Linked DNA regions of Homo sapiens. The protein of the gene in region 2 interacts with the protein of the main gene of each other region in a pairwise test. Each region holds a gene or a part of one and is shown on either strand. Other genes may lie near its edges. The genes, in order: SATB1, FOXP4 and SOX5.

Evidence for each region.
Region 1: the proteins of FOXP4 (region 2) and SATB1 come close enough for resonance energy transfer, tested with the Homo sapiens proteins (one study listed by BioGRID).
Region 3: the proteins of FOXP4 (region 2) and SOX5 come close enough for resonance energy transfer, tested with the Homo sapiens proteins (one study listed by BioGRID).

What each region holds. Positions count from the first base shown.
Region 1 is NC_000003.12:18,418,684-18,422,436, forward strand, and holds part of SATB1 (DNA-binding protein SATB1), read right to left. Parts: intron 2,309-3,753; 5' UTR 2,285-2,308; coding exon 2,074-2,284; intron 1-2,073. UniProt on the Homo sapiens protein: Crucial silencing factor contributing to the initiation of X inactivation mediated by Xist RNA that occurs during embryogenesis and in lymphoma.
Region 2 is NC_000006.12:41,544,650-41,548,402, reverse strand, and holds the start of FOXP4 (forkhead box protein P4), read right to left. Parts: upstream 2,023-3,753; 5' UTR 1,536-2,022; intron 943-1,535; exon of another isoform or gene 858-942; intron 26-857; exon of another isoform or gene 1-25. UniProt on the Homo sapiens protein: Transcriptional repressor that represses lung-specific expression.
Region 3 is NC_000012.12:23,543,929-23,547,681, forward strand, and holds part of SOX5 (transcription factor SOX-5), read right to left. Parts: intron 2,497-3,753; coding exon 2,388-2,496; intron 1-2,387.

The DNA.
Region 1 (3,753 bases), on a different chromosome or scaffold from region 2:
CAATCCCTTTTTCTTAGTAGTGTTTTCTCATCTCAGCCATAATTTTCATTTAGCACCTATCAGACAGAAACCATGCACATGAAAAATAAGATGAAAATGTTAATAAAAACCCACAAAAAGACTTTAGTAATTTTGTTATTTGGAGTATCTGAGACCCTCCTACAATTAAACTGCATTTTTAGAATACATCCAAAACAAAACAAAACAAAACCAAAAAGCATTTGAGCAGGAAGTGAATTTACTGTACTTTTAGTTTTCCTCCTCCTGTCCTGATATCTTCAAAGAGTTGGGTAAGTACAACAAAAATGTACACATTCATTTTTCCTTTTGTAGGATGAATCAGATGTATTCTACAATATGCTTTTCCTTAGATCTATGAAATAACTGCAGGGTTTTCAAACTATTGAAATATATTGGATTTATTGTGGATTTTATTGATCATGTTTAGAGGTACCCTAAAATAATAAAGACGGCTATAAAGTGACAATAGTACTATCTAATTACAGACCTTCTAGCAAACTGTTGCGGTTACCCTCCCGTTTCTGGGAGTAATGCTGAACACAAGCCTTTTCTGAACTGTATGATTATTCGTGCTAGTGTTTGGCGAGAGTTCCAACTACAGCAACTTCATAACCTTCCAGCATTTAAAGGGGAGAGCACTGGTCACTGCTGAATGCTAAAAATACCACATGATTTAAACCTGAAGGCAGTCTTAGAAGCTTTTGCTGAAGGTTTATGAGCCTGTGTAAACAGCACGTCTGCCATAAGGAGCAGTGAAGTCTGTAGAATCCTTGTCTAAAACTGTCCTGGCATTAAAGTTTGCTGTGCAAATATCACATAATACCAGAGACAGCTGAAATCTCCTATTTAGGAATTTATGGAACTTACATGTTTGCAGGCGTCAGAAAGTCTTTTTTATACAGCCCCAGTGCTTCACAGTACAATATTAATGCACTCTGTTTGAAAAGCCGTAATAAATTATATTTTTAATGCTCTTACCCTGGCTTTCTTAAGATGCATACATTCTTGGCAAACAATCAATAAATAGGGTAATCATGAGTAGAGGCCAAAGAATTTGCTGAAGTGCTGTTTTCCCATTTTTAATAGATAAAGATCTAACAATACGGACTGCTGTGTCTGTTCATTTCAGGATCAATATATTCTTTGTTTTCGCCAAACCAAGGAAAAAATAAATGATTGTATGATAAATGTTACGCATCAAACACAATGAAATTCCTCTGCCTTCTAACTTTATCTACTTAATATTCTTGGTTGCTAAAATATAGCATTTTTATCCATTGCTTAGCAAATGTAAGGAAAATCTGATTCCTATACATGTTATTCAGACACAAAATGAAGCTCCTTATGAGGCACATGCATTACACCCAGGGTAGGCACTGCTTTACAGGAACAACACTGTTAAACACAGTCCAAGTTGTTAAACTGCATCAATTTAATATTGGTAGAAAAAAGTCACACAGTTACACATCTTCCCCTTATAAACTTGCCTAAATCTGTTCTTTCTTCATCAAAAATACCCAATTAAAACAAAAATAAAAAACTAGAATCATCAGATTTTTTACTGCTAATGAATTTGCTCTTAAGAAAATAAGCCACAAAAAATAACATTACCAAACTTCTACATAAGATGTCCAAGATCTCTGAAACTGCCCTACAACTAAGAATCTTAGGAAGAAGCTAGGGTAACTCTCAAATCACCTAAGTGTTTTATTCTTAATCAGGTTAGTTTGAAGAAACAGCTGCCTACAATCCTCGACTACAACACCTTTTGAATGGACCCTGCCAAAACTAAAACCATTATATTTAATTCAGTCCTTATTACCCAAAATGTTCCATGATTCCAGTCTACAGTAGAACGCTCCACCCAAGCATGGAGGCTATACTTTCCAACGTGATTGATACTAAGGACCCAGAATGTAACTAATGTACGATCATAAGGAGAATAAAGGCAGAGTATACAAAACATGTTCTGCCACTCCACCCCCACACAGTGTGGCCTTGTGTAGACAACAGGGCTTTCAGCTTTTCAAGATTTGGCTTGAAGGTATTTACCTTTCCTAAGGTTGGTTTTCATCAGATGGCCCGAGTGTTTTAAAGGCACTCCCTGCATTTTTGCACCTGTACTCCCAAGCCTTCCTCTTCCTAGCGGGCTCCCGTTCTGCTCCAGGCGGGCAATCTTGGCTGGTGGACCCTTCGGATCACTCACATTGTTAGACATTTCTGAATGTTCTTTCCCCTGAGTTGCCTCGTTCAAATGATCCATACTCAGTCACTGTCTAAAGATCACCTGCCAGAATTTAAAAAGAAGACACGTTATAGTTGGGCGGGGACCTACGTGTATATATGTGTCCTATGTAAATGTTTTAGCTCTAGATATCTCTCCACAAATATAATGTATTTGTAAAATGGCCTATCTAGATATGATACAGATGTTACTATATTTCTAGATGATAGCATTACATTCTTATTCAAATTAACAAAATGATCTGTGGAAACTGTACCAATACACATGAATAAAAAGATAACTGGCCTATAAAAAAACTAAGTGGGGAAAAATGGGCTTACTTTTAGAACAAGAATTATTACAAGTATAGCTAAAAAGAAAACAGCAAATTGCATTTACGTAGTCCCAATTTTTAACAATTAGAAACACATTACAAAATACAGCAGAAACACTTTAATAAAGGATGGAAAGATGATCATAGTTCAAAATATTAGAAATCTAATGTATATGTTTTATATGTATACATTTTATATGTGTATGTATATTAATTCTTATGAAAAAAACATAAACCATCTCAAAAGAAGGTAACAAACATCTAACTGCTTTTTAAACTCCCCATTGGCTTTTGTAAATTAATGCATAGAAAAAGTTTTCTACTATCAAAGTTCCAAGAGTTATGTGACAGACCTAGTCAAGTTTTGGGCCAAAGATGTGATTGGATCAGTTTACCCCTAAAGAAACAGGAAGAAGTGAAGGGTTTTCAAATATCCAACGTACTGATGCATTAAAACTCATGTGTTTTAGAGTCAGTATTTAGGTGTCCATTAGTAATAGAGGGCTGTTAACAATAAATATTTTTAAAAAATTGAATACACTTCGTGATATGCACATTAGGTTGAAGTGCCAAGCTCAATTAAAAAAAAAAAAAACACAAACAAAAAACCTTGATGATACTGGTAAAACAAAATATCCAGTATTCAGAAATAACCTCAGCATGCAATGGCATTAACATTGTAATTAACTTCAAAAAAATTAACAGATAATTATTTTCAGTTATATATTAGACATCAATTTTCCCATCATTTATAGTAAAGTGATTAGACAATATCAAAGTCATTTTTAAAGTATAGTTTTAATTAGAATTGATAAGAACAGGTAAGTAGAATTATTTTATGAACTTTGATGGTATTTGAAGTATTGAGCTTATGAAACTAAGGGGATCATATTTAGGAAAACCAGAGAGAATAATTACCATTTTTCCTAGCTGTCTAGTAATTTGATATAGCTTGTTTTTGTTGTAAATTCTTACACTGGAGCTATTTAAATCTGGATTTGTTGAAAGCCAGTTTGTATTAGCATGGCTTTTCTGTAAATATTTTTTCTTCTGTTTAACCATAGCCTACTTCTTACCATATAATCAAGAAAAGGGGGGCAGCAATGTTAATCTGGAAGTTTAAAAGCAACCTTAAGAATGCCAATTGAAGAACTATAAAGTTTGAGAAAAATTA
Region 2 (3,753 bases):
CCGGGGTGAAGATGCTGAAGTTCAGGTAAAAACCCGCATTGGCCAAAATGCTCCCGGGCTTTCTCGGGAGTCACCCGAATGGCAACTTCAGGCTCGGGTTTGGTTCTCCGGACTCCCCACCCCTATTCCCGGCTCCAGGCGCCGCGGTCAACCTGCGGGGAGACTAGACGTTGGGGTGCCAGACACGCGGTGATCTCCAGACGCCCGAAACGCCAGGCGCCGAGTGAGCGAGGAAACCAGCCGGGAGGGGGCTGGCCAGGGAAGCCGGGGAGCAAAGGAAAGAGCGGGGCGCGCTCTGGGCTCAGGGTTCCCATACCCTTTCCCCCCAACCTAGGATCGGGGTGGGACGCAGGTGTGTTCACGAGATCGCCCCAGTTGGGGGACACAGGGAATCCGCCGCCGTCTGGGCCTGTCTCAAAATCCGCATTCCGCGAAATTACCCGGTCCTTTATGGGGGCGGCCGGGACCCCAGGTCGCATTCTAGCGCCACTGGCTGTGCTCTGACGCAGCCCAAGGAAGTTTGTTTGGCGTGGATGAGGAGCCCGAGGCTGAAGCGCCGCCGGTCAGAGAGGTGCTGGGGTTGTCCAGGGGAGATACCAGACTCCTCAGTTGGGGCGGGGGGGGGTCCTGCTCGGTCACTCCGGGCTCCTTCCCTGGTGGCCTCCGGGCCCCCGTGGCCGCCCTCTCTTCCCCCCTTAAGTGGTGAAGCGGGAGCTCTCTCCACAGCGGGTGAGTAGAGGTGTCAGCCAGATCGTTTCCCCACCCTCCACCTCCGGCGCACAAATCACAGGGGCCATTTCCAGACGCTCTCAAGTCCCCAAGAAGTTTTCCGCTCTATCCCCGAGCTGACCGAGCGATGGAAAAGGGGCTGACTGGCCCTGGCACTTCCGAGGTGCGACCTCAGCAAGACAAGTCCCCTCTTCACCAGAGACGACACGGCGGGTAGGACCGCGATCCCCCGCTCTCTTGCCCCCATTTTCATCTGTCTCCGGCGCGTCCTGGGGAGTCCGGTACCGACTAGAGTTGGGGGGAGCCACTTCCCTTCCCAGCTCTGGAAAGTCTGGGCCGGGAAGTATTCTTTGTCTGACTCGGGGCGGGGAGGGGGTCGCGCCCCCGTACACCCCATTCCCAGAGGCCCGGCGGGGAGGGGGCGGGGCCCAGATTCTTGGGGAAGGGCGGGCCTCGGTGGCCTCTCCGGCCGCCCCCCTCCCCGCCCCGGCCTCCGGCTGCCCCCACTCCCGCCGCGCCACAGCCCCCACCTGTTCCCGAGGCAGCTCCGGCCCGCTGGGGCCCGGGCCAGGGGCGGAATGTCGCGGCTGCGCGGGGTCAGTGCGCCACGGCCGGCCCTGGCTGGAACAAAGTGCGCCGGCCCGGGCCCGGCTCCTCCTGGCGCCCGGCGCCCAGCGCGTCTCGGGCGGGCAGTTTGCAAACACAAAGTGAGCCAGCGAGCGGGCGAGAGAGTGCGCGAGCGAGGGAGTTGGTCTGGTCGCCCGCCCAGCCCCCACCCACGTCCCTGGGCCCGACCCGCCACCTACCTGTCCCGCCCGGCCGCTCCGTGCGGGCTCCGGCCCGTCAGCCCGCGCGGGGCATGGGGCTCGCTCCGGTCGCAGCCCGGGCCCGCCGCCGCCCGCCGGGGCTGCCCTTCCGCGCCGCCCCGCGTCGCGCAGCTCCCGGGCGTCCTCCCAGCGCGCCGGGCCGACCGCCGCGCGCCTCAACCCCGCCGGGGCATGGCACTTTGTGGGCTGCTTGGCTCGCTCCGGCTCCGCTCTTCCTTCCCGGTCCTTCCGCGACGCTCGTCAGCTCGCTCCGGCTCCCGGGCTCCCGGACCCCGGCGTCCCCGCCCCCGGCCCAGCCCTGGTTCCGGCCCGGGCTCCTCCCCGCCGCGCCGCCGCCGCCTGCGCCGCGCCCTCCTCGCGGGCTGGGGGCTCCGTCCCGGCCGCCGGCCGCCGGCCGCACTGTCCGGTCCGCAGGGACGGCGGGCTCCGGACTCCGAGGGGCTGCGACTGAGCCTGGGCTGCGAGTGGCTGCGAGCGGGCGGCGCGCGGGCGGGGCGGGAGGGGGCGGGGGAGGAGGAGGGTGGAGAGGGAAGGAGGGAGCGCGCGGAGAGCGAGGGAGGAGGGAGCGAGAGAGCAAGCGGCGGAGGGAGGGGAGACCAACTTCTAGTGCTACCATAATTCGCCTAAAGCAGGTGCAGCAACTTTCACCCCGCCTGGCAGCCCGCTGAGAGCGAGAGAAAACCACGTGCACCAAACTTTAGGGGAGGAAAAATGGGAACGTGGGGAGAAGACGTGAGGCGGCAGATCTGAAAAAGATGGTAGGTGGAGGGACCCCAGGGATTCACCCTGGCCTCGGACTAATCCTATGGGGCGCTTGCAAACCCCGGCCATCCCCTGGAGTCTGAAGGTACGGCCAAGTCCTGATCCCACACGGTTCACTGGTTCCCGGCGGGCTGCGCTCGGCGCGGGGAGTGGCCGGGGGCCCAGAGACGGAGCCAGTGTCAGGCCCGGGCCCTGTCTGGCCTCCCTCCTGCTCCCCACTGCGTGGGGGCTGGGGGTGGGCTTCCTGAGCCGAGGGTAGAAGGTGGGGAGGCCCCTTCAGGGCTTTGTGAACGGTCACCCCCTGGCGCGCACTGCCTCCCTCTGCGGAAAGGGAATTTCCCGTAAAGTGCTCTGCGAACCAGTGAAGAAGGGGCCCAAGGCCAGAGCCATGCGGGCAAAGTGAAGTGCAAAGTTGAGGCAATTATCCGGACAAATTAGATTGTAAACAAAACCCCGCGTCTCTGAACATCGCTTTTGCCCAGGGGGACTGGAGGGATTGTGGTGGTGGCGGCGATGGTGTGTTTGGGTTGGGAGGGGGAGGTCTGGGTGAGGAAATGCCCACGGCCCAAGGGGGAGGGCTGTGTTGTTAGCAGACGCACCACTCAGAGTCCCGTGGAAATCTCAATACCCGTCCCCCTCCCCGCCCCACACACGCCGGAAACATCTCCCATCTGTCTGCATGTGTTGGGGGTGGGGAGAAGTGAAGGAGGCCTCAGGGGTCCTCATGAAGTACCCCAACCCAGCTCAGTGATGCCGGGTCCCCATGACCAAGGGAGGATCCTGTTGTGGGATCAGGACAAGAAGACAGTGGCTCTTGAAGCCTCTCCTGGCCCTAAATCCTCAGGCAGGTGGACAAGAGGCTGGCATAGTATGTGAGCCCCTGTGGAGTGGGAGCTGGAAGCCTGAGGTGTGGGGTCGGAGCTGCAAGGATTGATGCTTAGTTGCCTGGGGGGAGGGGATTTCTTGGCCGTTCCAGTGGTCCTTGAAAGAAAAGGGGACCTCAGAGAGGAGGCACCCTCTTGGGTTGTTTTTCATCACTTCTGTCCCTTTTCTGCAATGTTAGTGACACCTGCACAGGTCCACATTTTATGTATTTGCCTTTTTGGGCAGGTGGGACAGGCATACTTAGGTCCTGCTGGAGCGTTTTAGATTTCTAGGTGTGAAATTGTGCAGGGAAGACTCTAAGTGCCATTTATGTGGATATCTCAGTGTCCTTTCCAGTGTGGCAACTGAGATAACCATAGCCATAAGAATAAAATAACAGCTAACATCTGAGTCGTACCACCCACCAGCCATTTAATCTTCACAGTAACCCCAGGAGGGAGATATTTGTATTATCTCCATTTTATAGAAGAGGAAACTGAGGCACAAAGAGATCAAGTAACTTGCCCAGGCTTACACAGCTGCTGGTCAGTGATGAGCCAGATTCCAACTA
Region 3 (3,753 bases), on a different chromosome or scaffold from region 2:
AATTGGCTTTTCTTTGAAATTATATGCTGACAAATGCATGACATATGCTGATACAGCAATGACAGGTCTGCCCCCCAAAATATATGTAAAACTGGTATGGAAAAGAACAAATGAACAGTTACATTCCTCTAGTTTCTTAAGGAGTCTACAGTCACATGTTTAAGATGAGAAAAATAATAATTTCCTTTGAATTTTCCCCCTAATATTTAAAGTTATCCAAAGAGTCCCATGGACAGTCACATTTCAATCAGTAAGATTCACAGATGATAAAACACAATTCAAGAGTTAACAACGATAGCTTTGGAAGCTGCATTCACTCCTCCAGCCTTATGTGACCCCTTAGAATGGCTTCAGCAGATTAAATTGCTTCCAAGATACTTGAGTTTAGGCAAAGAGAAAATAAGGAGAACCAGTAGAACTCTGACAGTAGGTTTTCACTGGGTATTATCACAAAATAAGTAGATGTATTTTGATAGTATCCAAAACTTTAAAAATACTTTGGGGACTTGTAGAGACTGTATTATCAACAAAAGCACTGCTTTTCTTTTCTTGCTTTGTATTCATTCCTCATCTTTTCTTTATTTTTAAATTTGGAGACACAGGAATCAAACAAAATTGCCCAAACTTGAAGACCTCTATAGCAGCACATTCAAAACATAGCATACCTGTTGGTGAAGTTTCTCAATATTTTTCATTAATAACATGCTCTTTGATTTAATGAAAAGTAGAAAATATTTCACATACAAGCATGATTGAATTTAGGTAATGACAGCAACAAAAACTTTGATGTGTTAATGCTGATTACTGTGGGTATATTTTATCATGCTAATACAACTTAAAATTTATGAAATGTGTTATTACCCGTAATTGTCTTTTATTGACAAAATAAGTGCAAATATATGGCAACATCTTCCTAAAATGGGTTTGTAACTAGCAAGTGATCATTTGCACATCTGCCTTTTCTTGTTCTTACACCTTACAGCAACATAAGCAATAAAATGAACATTATGTGTCTTCATCAAATCTAAACAAGCTCTTTAAATGTACATAGGCTAGGTTTATCTTAGCTAAGTGGAGCTGAAAATAGAAGAAAATGTTTGCAACATTAGACCCAGAAAAATGCAAATTGAATCCAATTGAGTAAAATTCAGTTTTGATAGAATTACGTGTTTCAACGTTCAGGTTTGTTTAGTCCCTTGATTAGTATAGACCTGGTCTTAAAAGTAGAATTGGCCCAAGGCACAGAGTAAACAGTTGTGTATATTGGAGGATTCAAGGGGACCCCCTCTCAAAGTATGCATCTCACTGGTTTGCCTTTGTGCACTCTTCTCTATATGCAGGGAACTTCCCTGTAGTAGTAACAAAGTTGAGGGCGGTACTGCCAAAGGAATGCTTAAAATGCATGGATGCCACCTGACAGTAGAGAGATGTTCCCGGTCAGGGTATTGTATAAGAAGAACAGCACTTCCTTCTTTTTCCCTCTTTGCTACGCTATTAAAAATCAGAGTATCAATTTAATTTCTTCTCACTGTGGATGTTTAGAATGTTCAGAGATGATACAGAAAACAGAAGTCTGAAGGCCTATGAGAAGGGAGCATAAAGCTGTGCAGCTGGTTTCTAGTTAGGTTATAGAGAGTGGGCCCGACACTTGACTATGTAGTACATAGCACTAGGGAGAAGGGTTCCAAAATGTAAGAAACTATCGTGGAAATGTCCTCTGAGCCATGTATTCTGGTGAGGGCTTGACAAATAGAAACTTAAAAAATGAGCCAATAGAAACAAATTTCTGAAAAAGTTCATTTTGGGTACAAGAAATAGGGAAGTGAGGCCGCATGCAGTAACTCACGCCTATAAAACTAGCACTTTGGGAGGCTGAGGTGGGAGGATCACTTGAGCCCAGGAGTTTGAGACCAGCCTGGACACCATAGTAAGTAAGTCCTCATCTCAAAAAAAAAAAACAAAATTGCTGGGCATGTTGGCATGCACCTATAATCCCAGCTACTTGGGAGGCTAAAGTGGGAGGATCACTTGAGCCTGGGAAGCTAAGCATTTTGAGCATTTGCTTTAGAATCATGCCATCTCGAATTTAATTCTTGCCTCTGACACTTAGAGCCCTGTGACCTGGGGAAAATGCTTCAAAACTCCTGAGGCTCAGGCTCTTTCTCTGCAATGGGACTTATCCTAGGTTGACTAGGAATTAAATGAGACGATTTCTGCAAAGCACTCAGCAGAGTGCTTGGCACATGGGGACTGCTCAGTATATGTGACCTCTTATTGTAATGATGAGGTATGAGGTGGCTGTCTAGTCTATTTTTTAGCAGTTTTAATTGGCACTACCTAGACACTTTCTTGCATTATTAGAATATGTATGAACAATTTTCACAAACCATCAGAATCTCCACTCAGATTGAAATCCATCATTGCATGGCTAAATTTTCCTTCTTCATTCTGTTTAACTGCCAGTTGCTGAGTCAGACTCTCCAGTGTTGTTTTTTCCTTTAAAAAAATTATAATGAGAGATCAGTCTAGGAATTAAAATTATTTGAAGACTTTCTTTTTTTGGGCCACATATATAATACATTAACTCCTGGAAAGGATGCAATGTTGATATATTCACCTTTTTACGTTCAGCACATTAACCTGAAGTCATTAAGGGGATGATCAGCACGATTTTTGAAGGAACTCTGATTCTCATAGACCCCTATAAAGTCTTGGCGTTTGGGTTTGGTATGCCTAAGGGATATATGCCGGGATCCTTGGAGACAACCTTCCCAAATTACAAAATGTGCACAGAAATTTCATGGAAGCAACCTGTTTTACATTTGGAATGTCTGCTTTATTTTTGGCCAGACAGTAGAAGTATAGGAGTGGCGTGAAGCCCAGAGAAAGTCTTCCAATAGTCAGGTGACCAAATAATAGAAACATAATTCACAGTAGTGCCCTCTGGTTGCCATCTTCCCAAATGCCATCTGCATTCCTCATGCAAGGGTAATGAAGACGTTTAAATATTCATTGCTAATTGCTTGTCAAGTCTCTGTACATCCAATGTGAGTGCCTGCTACTTGGACCACAATTTGATTTGGATTGCTAAGCCAAAATATTGAGTTGGCGAATTATTTGAGATACAAATATACCAAAATTAGATCTACAGAGACATCAAGTTGTTTAAGCATGCAGTGCACGATTCACATTCATGGAGAACATAGCATTTCAAAATAAATTATTTTTAAGAAAAATATAATGCTTAATCTAAACCATATGAGACATTACTGTCAAATTAAGAAACTGGGTGACTTTAGGAACAGAAAAAGCATATAATGAAACTTGATAACTTTCTCGTGAACTCTCCAGCACTGCTCTGAGGATGATGTAGTACCAAACAGCACCAAAACAGTTTTAAGAAATGCATCCATTGGATCTCATAACATTATCTCAAGTTTCTTTATAATTATTCACCTCATTTTCTGAGGAACATAGTCATGAATCATACTAGTGAACGACATACACTGCAGAACTGCTATTGACACAATAAAATGTTCACAGAAAGTAATCAATGATGTAAGATAATTGTATTACAGGTAAAGGGCCCAACTAATGTTCCCACCAAGAACTAATGAGATATTGAAATTCTTAACACAGTACATGCTTTATCTCAATGAAGTCTCTGACAATGTGACAACTGTACATACTAAATTAAAAAATCTCTTAAGTCAGTGGCCTTGGAACTCCTGTACTCTATTCATCAAATTATGT